Linked DNA regions of Homo sapiens: region 1 is linked to region 2. The links come from fine-mapping of genetic effects on gene expression. A gene starts in region 2. The other region holds a variant in brackets. All regions are shown on one strand. Distances are from middle to middle.

Region 1 (4,370 bases), 280 kb after region 2:
AGGGGACGGGTATGCCCTGTGTGTGAGGGGTGGGGTGGCAGTGTCTGCAGGCTCCTTCTCCTGCTCCTTGGGAGGTGAGCGTCATCTCTGGGAAGTGGCCCAGGCTGCTTTCTGTTGTTCTGATGTGTGTGCTCTGAGTCAGAGGAGCTTCAGGGACAGAAGGGACCGGGCATGGGGACACAGGAGTTCCGGCTGCAGGCCTGTGTGGACCTGTGGCTGGACCCAGGCGAGGCCTCTGGGTCTGCACATCTAACAGGGAGATGGTTCCTGGAGGGTGAGCTTAGGCTGTTAAGGGCAGGAGCTAGTGAGGAGGCTGGTGGGGCCTATAGGGACAGGGGGCCAGATGTCCCCTCCTGTTTCGGCTGTCTCACTGGATAAGCAGCCCAGCTCAGCTCTGGCCATTGGTGGTCTGGTGGGCTCAGTGTTGCTCAGACGTTTGCATTTTCAAAGATTTGTTCTGTTGTGTGAAGTCTCCTGATTTTTGAAGGCTGACAATTTTAAAAAATCAATCCTGGGCCAGGGCGCAGGTCTGGCTGAACTCGGCCTCCAGCCTGCAGTTTTCCTTCCTTTGATAGCTCCGTGCCAGGCTTTGGCCAGAGGCTGTGTGGCTCTTTTGAGGTACTTTCCCCAAACAGCTTGCTCACCTTGCCCGCTTGCCCCAGTACTCCTGGGGCCGTGCACCAGCCTGGCTGCAGCCTAGCCCCGTGGAGAGCTGCCCTGGTGCAGCCCCGGCCTGGAGCCTGTTTTTGTCCACTCGCGGCTGTCTTCCTGAGCGTCCCCCCGTCCACATGGCTGGACCAAGTGGGTCAGGAGAGGGCCGAGGCGGGTGGCCGGGATGCTGGGACCCAGGATGAGGTGCTCTGGGCTCTCGAGAAAGGGCTGGGCCTAGGCCAGGAGTGGGTGCCGGCCGCAGGGGCACCACCTGGACTCCCTCAGGCTGGTCGCTGTCCGAGAGGGGCCGGGGAAGAGCTGCAGGCCTGGCTGCCTTCGGCAGGCTGTGACCCAGCAGGCCAAGGCCGAGTGGGCGGGGGTCGAGGGAAGCTGCCTGGGGCGCGTGGGTTACGCGGCAGACGCTCCTGAGTGTGTGGGCAGCGTGTCCAAGCCACGGATCTGGGTGCCTGGCCGGGCCCGGGTGACACGGGACCGTGTGTCCATGCGGCTCACGGAGGGTCCAGTCTCCGGACATCTGAGTCCTTGCCATGCCCTACCCCGGGCCCATGCCTGGCATAGACCCCCCAGTCCAGGCCTCAGGGCAGCCCCCTCACCACTCCTGCTGAGTTAGCCCCAGGCGTCCCGGTGGGGAGTATGGAGGCTGGTCTCTGACCCCAAGCAGGTGCCTAGGCTGGGCCTCCTTCCCACCCCCTCTCCCCGCCTTGAAGTCCTGGCACTGGCTGTCCCTGCGGGGGGGCACTGAGGCAGGGAGAGAGTGGTTCCTACCCCAGTGTGTTACTTCGCTTTGGTGAGCGACATAGAACCTCACTGCATCCCCAGCTGCTGCTCAGCCATCCAGCTGGTCCTGGGGTCCCTGCGTGAGGTGGGGGACCTCAGAGGGTACAGGCCACTCCCCTTCATCCTGGAGGAGGCCTTGGCTTTGCTGAGTAAACACCCTTGAGAAGAGGTCTGTGGGGGACTCTGAGCCCACTCCAGAGAGCAGCTGCTGCGGAGGGCCCCGCAGGGCTAATTGTTTGTGTGCAGATGGAGGCTGCTCATTACCCCGCCAGGATGAGGGGCCCAGCAGGACCCTGAGGGAGGGAGCCCGCAGACTCTCCCCTCAGCCTGTGGGAACCTTTGGGCTCCAGGCCAGGGCTGCCTGTGCCTCCTGGGCCTCAGTTTTTCCCAGGCTGTCAGGTGAGGGTCAACCCCAGGCTGCGTCTAGGTGGCTTCAGTGTGAGACCCGCGGGCCCTGGGCTGGTTAGTGCCAAGCTCTGCCTCCCCTGGGGGAGCGTTGAGGGTCTGGAACGGCCCCCGTGGGCAGGCCAGGGACAGAGATGGGGAGGCAAGTGTGCTGGCTCCTGGTGGGAGGGCTGGGCAGAGAGTGGGGGTCCCAACAGCCCTGGGCCTACCCGGGAGAGGGGCAGGAGGCACAGGCTGGTGGAGGTCATGGCATGGCTGTGGTGGAGGCCGCCAGCATCAGGGAGGTTCCTGTTTTGGGAGCTTGTTGAGTTCTCACTTCAAAAACAACAAAAGAGGAAGCCGAGGTGGCCTTGAGTGGGGGTGAGGGGTCACTGCTGGCCCCAGCCCTGGACCTTAGCCCCCACGCCTGGTGGCTCCTGAGTGGACAGCTCTTCTTCCTGTGTGTTTCTTGGTCACTGGCCCTCTCTGGGCAGGGATGCCCTGTGGGGGGCTGGACTCCGGGAAGGGAAACTGAGGCCCAGGAGAGTGGACAGAATGTGGGTGGAATGATTCCTGTGCTGGGGCCTAGACCCCCGTACACCTTCCACTCTCAGGAGAAGCCTGGCCGG[G/A]TTGCATCAGGCCGGGTTCCTAGAAGTCCTGCACGAGGCTGAGCGGAGGGAACTGGCGCGGCCCCCGCTGGCGTCCCCTCTGCCTGGGCACACCCGGCCCGGCTTGGGGCCAGCACCCTGCCCTCGGGCCCTCCCATAGCTGAGACTGGTGGCTGTGGCTGTGGCTCTGGGCCTGCTCCCCAGGCCACCCTGGGTGGGCAGCTGCCTGCTGCTTCTGTCTGCTTGGACCATTGTGCCTAGTCCCATGGCCTCAGGAGAAGGTTCCCCCAGCCCAGCGCTGGGGCCCCGGGCAGGTTGGCAGAGGGCCCTGGGGCTCCAGGCCAGGATGGGGCTGTTAGGCGAACCCTAGGCCCCTTACTTCCTCATCTCCAACGGGAGTTCCCTTCCCTGCCATGCCGCCTTTAGGTGTGTTTTCCTTGAACCTTAAGGAATGATAGGTTTGGATTTCAGAAACGTTGGAATTGAGGGGGTTGGGAGTTCATGGGTGACTCTGCTGCCAATGTTGCGGGCTTTGGGGTGGGATCCTTGGGGCGCTGTGTTTGGGCTCACACACCCCCCAGGCGGGCCCGGTGACTGCAGACCCCACCCATACCCTGTAACCTGGCGGGCCCACCTGCCCAGGCCCTCAGCTGGTTGTCCAGCTCAGGGGTGGAGACACCCCCTGGGCAGGCCTGGCGGGGAGGTGGCTGCTCCCTGGGCCTGGAGAATGCAGAGAGGCCCTTCGGCTGGCCAGGGTCTGGCTGGCCTCCCCACAGACTGGGGCCAGGGGCACAGCAGCCAGGTGTAGGGCGCGGAGACGCTGAGCTGCACAAGCTTGGTGAGGTGTGGGGTGAGGCCACGGGGGTCAGGGCCACAATGTCCCAGCAGGCCGGGGGATCAGAAGGAGCACCCTCCACAGCTGGCCGTGCTCTGGGGGCCCTCCTGCCCCAGGCGTGGCTCCAAGTTGGGGCAGAAACAAGATGGTGGGGAGATGGAAGGCCCCTCTGTGGCGGGTGCTTCCCATGGTCGGTGTGGAGGACGAGGTCCCTACTGCCTGGTTCCAGTTCCCCCAGCAATGCAGGGCACTTTTCCTGGGGTGTCAGGGATTGAGAGGCCAGCACTGGAGCCCTTCAACCGCCAGGGGCCCTGCCCAAGAGAGACGGGAGGAGGGAGGGGCTGTGGGCATGGCTGCGTGCCCCCGGCCGAGCCCCGGAAGGAGCCTGTGCCCGTGCCCACTTCCTTTCCCGAGGGCAGTGTCTACACGTGGGACACTGTGGCCAGCCCTCCCTCGCAGCAGGCACTGTGTGCTGTCCCCATGCCCAGCTTCCTCCCACGCAGGGAGCGAGGGTGAGGGCCCTGGGAACCCACTGGGTGGAGGGCACTTGGCAAAGCCTGCTGCAAGTTATGGGGAGAGTGGGCGGGGGCAGAGTAGGAGGCGCCAGGGAGGGGCTGCAGCCTCATCTGCAGGGGTCCTGAGTAGGCAGGGTGGGCCATGACATGGGTGGGGCTTGTTTGGGGCAGACCAAAAATGAGGTGGGGGACAGGGACAGGGACAGGGTCTTGGGATGTGCTGGGCTCTGCGATGGATGGGTGTGTGGCAGGTGGGGTGCCTTTGCCGGCCCGAGGGGTGGGTGACGGGCAGTGCCTGTGGGGGAGGACATCCAGGCCCAGGTGGTCTGTCAGGGGCAGCACCAGGGAGGCCCAGTACCCCACCCAGTAGAGCCCCAGGAGAATGGAAAGCTGAGACCCAGGTGCTTCCCTGGAGTGGCAGGAAGAGAGGCCCCAGCGCCTCCGGCTGTGCCTCAGCGAGGTGGACGGGGTCATGGTGGTGCCGCCTGCCCGCACCATGTTCCTCCCGGGGTGTGTGTGTCGGGCTGAGGCCTGCTCCATGGTGGAGCGGAAGGAGGTGAAGAATTTGCAGTTTGTGTC
Region 2 (4,370 bases):
CCATGTCTGCAGCTTGGACCTCACCACTGCTGTGTCTGGGCCGCAGGGAGCTGTTCTGGCACGTGACTCAGCCGTGGGATGTTCGGGTGACTTCCTGTCTGAAACCTGCTCTCCTGTTGGTGAGGGATTCTCTGGGTATGAATCGCTTTGCTGGGGTCAGAGCAGGGAGAGCCATCTCCCTGACGGGCTTCTCAGAGACAACACCCCAGGTGCCGCACAGCCCGGGGCAGCCTCCACTGGTCCCGAAGGCCCGGTGGGAATAGGCAGGGCCAGTCCACACCCCCAGGCTGTCAGTGTTTGGACTCCCAGGCTCCTGCCTGCCCTCCACCCCAGCCTGGCTTCTCCACCTGGCAGGGGCAGGGGAGCCGGTACACGGCTGCCAACCCCCCAGTTCATACCCACAGCTCCTGCCACCCAAGGGACCCAACTTTCCTTTCCCAGACCCCAGTGAAGGACCCAAAGAGAGGATTCAACTGACCTCACTTGAATCGGCTATTCCCGGACTGCCTGGCAAAGGCCAGAAGGCATGGAGGGTGACAATGGCCTGAGCCGGGTCCGCATGTCACTCCTGGACCCCTCACCGGGGGCGCAGAGGAGGCCTGGTGAACGTGACAGACCACCCAGTGGGGCGCAGGACGGGGCAGGTCCTAGGAGGCTGCTGGGGCCAGCGACAGGAACCCACAGCTGTCCCTGGCCATCACCCCCACTGGCCTGATGTGGGCTTCGTCTATTGCTGCTCCGAGGGTGGGGCTGCCCTGGCCCAAAGACCCGGGAGGCCAGTGACCCCATGAGCAGTGGCCTGTGGAGGCGTGTGTTTGCACCAGATCCCCTAGAGGATCACTGTCCCCTGGGCAAGTGTTTCTGGAAAGCCAAGGTAGGCCCTGCCCTGAGACCTGCGCCTCCCCGCCAGGGCAATGGGAAAGCCCAGCTTTCCAGGGACTCCACTGCCACCCACACAAAACCCTCTGAAATCGCTGTTCGGAGGCAGCCTCCAGCCATGCGGCCCTGCAGCAGGGGGCAGCTGTGATCCACGTGTCTGGGGGAAAGTGTAGACTGGGGGCTCGGCCTCCACCGGCCTCTCCTGGCCGTGGGTGTACCCACCCAGGATGGCGGCTTCTTCGCTCAGTGACCGTCCCTGCTGCGGTGCTGGGCAGTGTCGCTTGGAGACATTTGTGGTCCCCAGCTCCTTCCCTCAGCCCGGCCCTGTCCCCACTGCTGAAAGAGCCTGGCTTGGATGGAGCTTGGCAGGCTCGGGAGTGGGCACCAGGGTGGGTCTGTGCCCTGAAACTCAGAAGCAGCCTGGAGGTGAGTGGAGTTGTAGGTGCTGTCCACAGCCAGCTGGCTTTGTCCAAGGAAACTGGGCCCATCATGGCCGGAAGCCCCACAGTGAGGGGGACTGTCCCAGGCAACCCTGCCTGCCCACCCTCCAGTTCCCACAGGGCCCCTCACAGAGAAGCCCACCCGCAGGGCTCCTGGGCCAGGCCAGGCTTGGTTCTGGATGCAGGAGGGGTTGAGGTAGGGCTGGGGGAGGAATGTGGAGTGTGCAGTAGGCTGTTCTTCCCACACGGCCCTGCCCCATGTAGGAAGAGGGAGGCGGGGAGGGGAGGGTGCTTGTGTGCAGTGGCTGTGCCGAGCCTTCCAGGACATGCAGGTGCCATCCTGGTCCCGGGGCTGCAGTGGGCGCACTCAGCCTCTCTACTCCTGGCACCCCGGACAGGGACTCCTGGGAGGACACAGCCTCTGGGAAGTCACCCTGCTCCGTGCTTGCCTGGCCCGAGAGTGGGCAACACCAGGCCTGAGCTGCAGAGGAGCTGGATTTTGTCTTTCCAGGACCCCTCCCTGCAGCCTTTCCAGGACCCCTGTCCTGCCTTGCCTGTCTGGGGACACACGGACAGCCGCTGTGCCGCGCCAGGCCCCAGCACCTGCCTGGGAGCTCCTGAGTGAGTGGAGCCTGGCTCTGAGTGCTGCTATTGCTAAAAGAGGTAAGACTGGGGTTTCCTGCCACTCCCTCCCTCAGGAAGGTGACGAGGCCATGCTGTCATCACCAGTAAGATACCCCAGCCCGGTTGGCTAACCCCTAGCTCAGCCCTGTTTGTGGTTAGGGGAGTTCTAGACAGAACATAATTAGACCCCTGCTACTTCCTGAAACCTCAGCTAGGACTGCAGGGAGGGGTGCGAGGCTAGCCACGCAGGCGGGGCCCTGGGTAAGTCGCTGGGCTCTGCGTGCTGGGGAGTGGGCCTGGGGGGCCAGGCTCTGGGATGGGGCTGGGGGCTGGGAGCTGGAGGCGGGCAGAGGGGGATCTGAAGGCAAAGGTGATTTGTTGGTAAAGATGGAGGCTTTGTTGAGGGTTCTTAATCTGGGGTCCCTCCCGAGAGAACCCAGGACCCCCAGTGACCACAGATGTGATGGGGCCGGAGGATTTGGGGGAGAGGGACAACAGTTTCCATTGTATCTTTGTCACCGCCACCTTCCTGGAGACTTTCTTCTGGAAAAGGCTTCCCTGGCTACTGGTCCAGATGGGGGTGAGTCAGGGGGCTGGACTTTGTCCCTGGAATCTCTCCTTGGCCACTTGCTTCCGTGATTGGTCGGGGGGCACTGAAGGGCTGGGCTTCTCTCTGTGGGGCCTGTGCTGCTTGTGGGGTTACACAGAGGGAAAAGCAGGGCAGTGGGGGCTGTGCTGCGGTGAGTGGCAGTTGGCCCAGTCACGTGACAAGATCCTGGAGCTGGGCAGGTCACCGGCCTTTGGAGTGGCGTTCGGCGCACCAGGCACAGCGGGGCGGGGGGCCCAATACCTTCTGTCAAGTGCATGACGTGGGTCTGTACCACTGCAAGGGACTGGGACTGACCACTGAAGACTGGCCAGTTGGGCTGAGCACAAAATGATATTTCAGGAGATTGGCCAGGCCGAGGTGGGAGAGCAGAGGCTCCTGGAAGAAGATGAGGATAGGGGCTGGGCACGGTGGTTCATGCCTGTAATCCCAGCACTTTGGGAGGCCGAGGTGGGCGGATCACTTGAGGTCAGGAGTTTGAGACCAGCCTGACCAACATGGTGATACCCTGTCTCTACTAAAAATACAAAAATTAGCCGGGCGTGTTGGCACACGTCTGTAATCCCAGCTACTTGGGAGGCCGAGGCAGGAGAATCGCTTGAACCTGAGAGGCGGAGCTTGCAGTGAGCCGAGATCGCGCCATTGCACTCTAGCCTGGGCAACACTATCAAATTGGGAAAAATAAGAAAGTTGACAATGGGCTTTGGATGGGTGTGGTGGAGCAGGGAGGTTGGAGCTGGTGACTCCACATTTCCCTCCCTAGGGTTTGTCTCAAACGTGACGGCAGAAAAGAGGTCATAGGTTTGCCTGGTGCCAAAGCAGGTGGGAGTAAAAGACGGAAATGGCTAGGAATGGCCAGCAACCGTGAAACAGCTTAGAAATTACAGGCAATCCAGCCAGGTGCGGTGGCTTACGCCTGTAATCCCAGCACTTTGGGAGGCCAAGGCAGGTGGATCACCTGAGGTCAGGAGTTCGAGACCAGCGTAACCAATATGGTGAAACCCTGTCTCTACTAAAAATACAAAATTAGCCGGGCGTGGTGGCACACGCCTGTAATCCCATTTACTTGGGAGGCTGAGGCAGGAGACTCACTTGAACCCAGGAGGTGGAGGTTGTGGTGAGCCGAGATCGTGCCATTGCACTCCAGCCTGGGCAACGAGAGCGAAACTCTGTCTCAAAAAAAAAAAGAAAGAAAGAAATTACAGATAGTCCACAAGACAGACCTCAGCAGCCTGAGGAGCTGTTTTTGACAAATGGGCTGGAATGAGGAACTGCTCCCTGCACATGGCAGGGGCCAGGGCTCCTTCTCTGTCCTTTTGTGTCTGTCTGAAAAGTTCCATCATAAGTTACAAAACAGGCTGGGCGTGGTGGCTCACACCTGTAATCCCAGCACTTTAGGAGGCCGAGGCGGGCGGATCACCTGAGGTCAGGAGTTCAAGACCAGCCTGACCAATATGGCGAAACCCCTTCTCTACTAAAAATACAAAAAATTAGCCGGGCATGGTGGCAGGCGCCTGCTAATCCCAGCTACTTCAGAGGCTGAGGCAGGAGAATCACTTGAACCCGGGAGGCAGAGGTTGCAGTGAGCCAAGATCGTGCTATTGCACTCCAGCCTGGGCAACGAGAGAGAAACTCAGCCTAAAAAAAAAAAAAAAGTTACAAAATAGATTTTAAAAGACTGGAGGAGCACAGCAACTTGCAGGCCAGAGAGCTCCAGGGACAGTGGCTGGGTGAGGTCATGCTAGATCCTGTTATTGAAATGTCCATCCCAGGAACATGTGGTGCTTCTCTAATCTGGAAAATGGATTCATTGGCCGGGC

What was found. PIP is the estimated chance that this variant, and not a neighbour inherited with it, causes the effect.
Region 1: its variant is fine-mapped to the expression of GPR132 in sun-exposed skin (GTEx, PIP 0.96).

What each region holds. Positions count from the first base shown.
Region 1 is chr14:104,785,709-104,790,078 of GRCh38, reverse strand. All of the region lies in intron 3 of AKT1 (AKT serine/threonine kinase 1), which reads left to right. Among named protein-coding and RNA genes, the nearest start is that of AKT1, 7.9 kb to the left of the region's middle. The variant G/A (reference allele first, on the strand shown) is at 2,463.
Region 2 is chr14:105,063,213-105,067,582 of GRCh38, reverse strand. GPR132 (G protein-coupled receptor 132) reads left to right here and starts at 2,153. Exons shown (of 4, transcript NM_013345.4): 1 at 2,153-2,204. RefSeq lists enhancers at 1,005-1,074, 1,285-1,454, 1,130-1,647, 3,325-3,464, 3,575-3,674 and 1 more.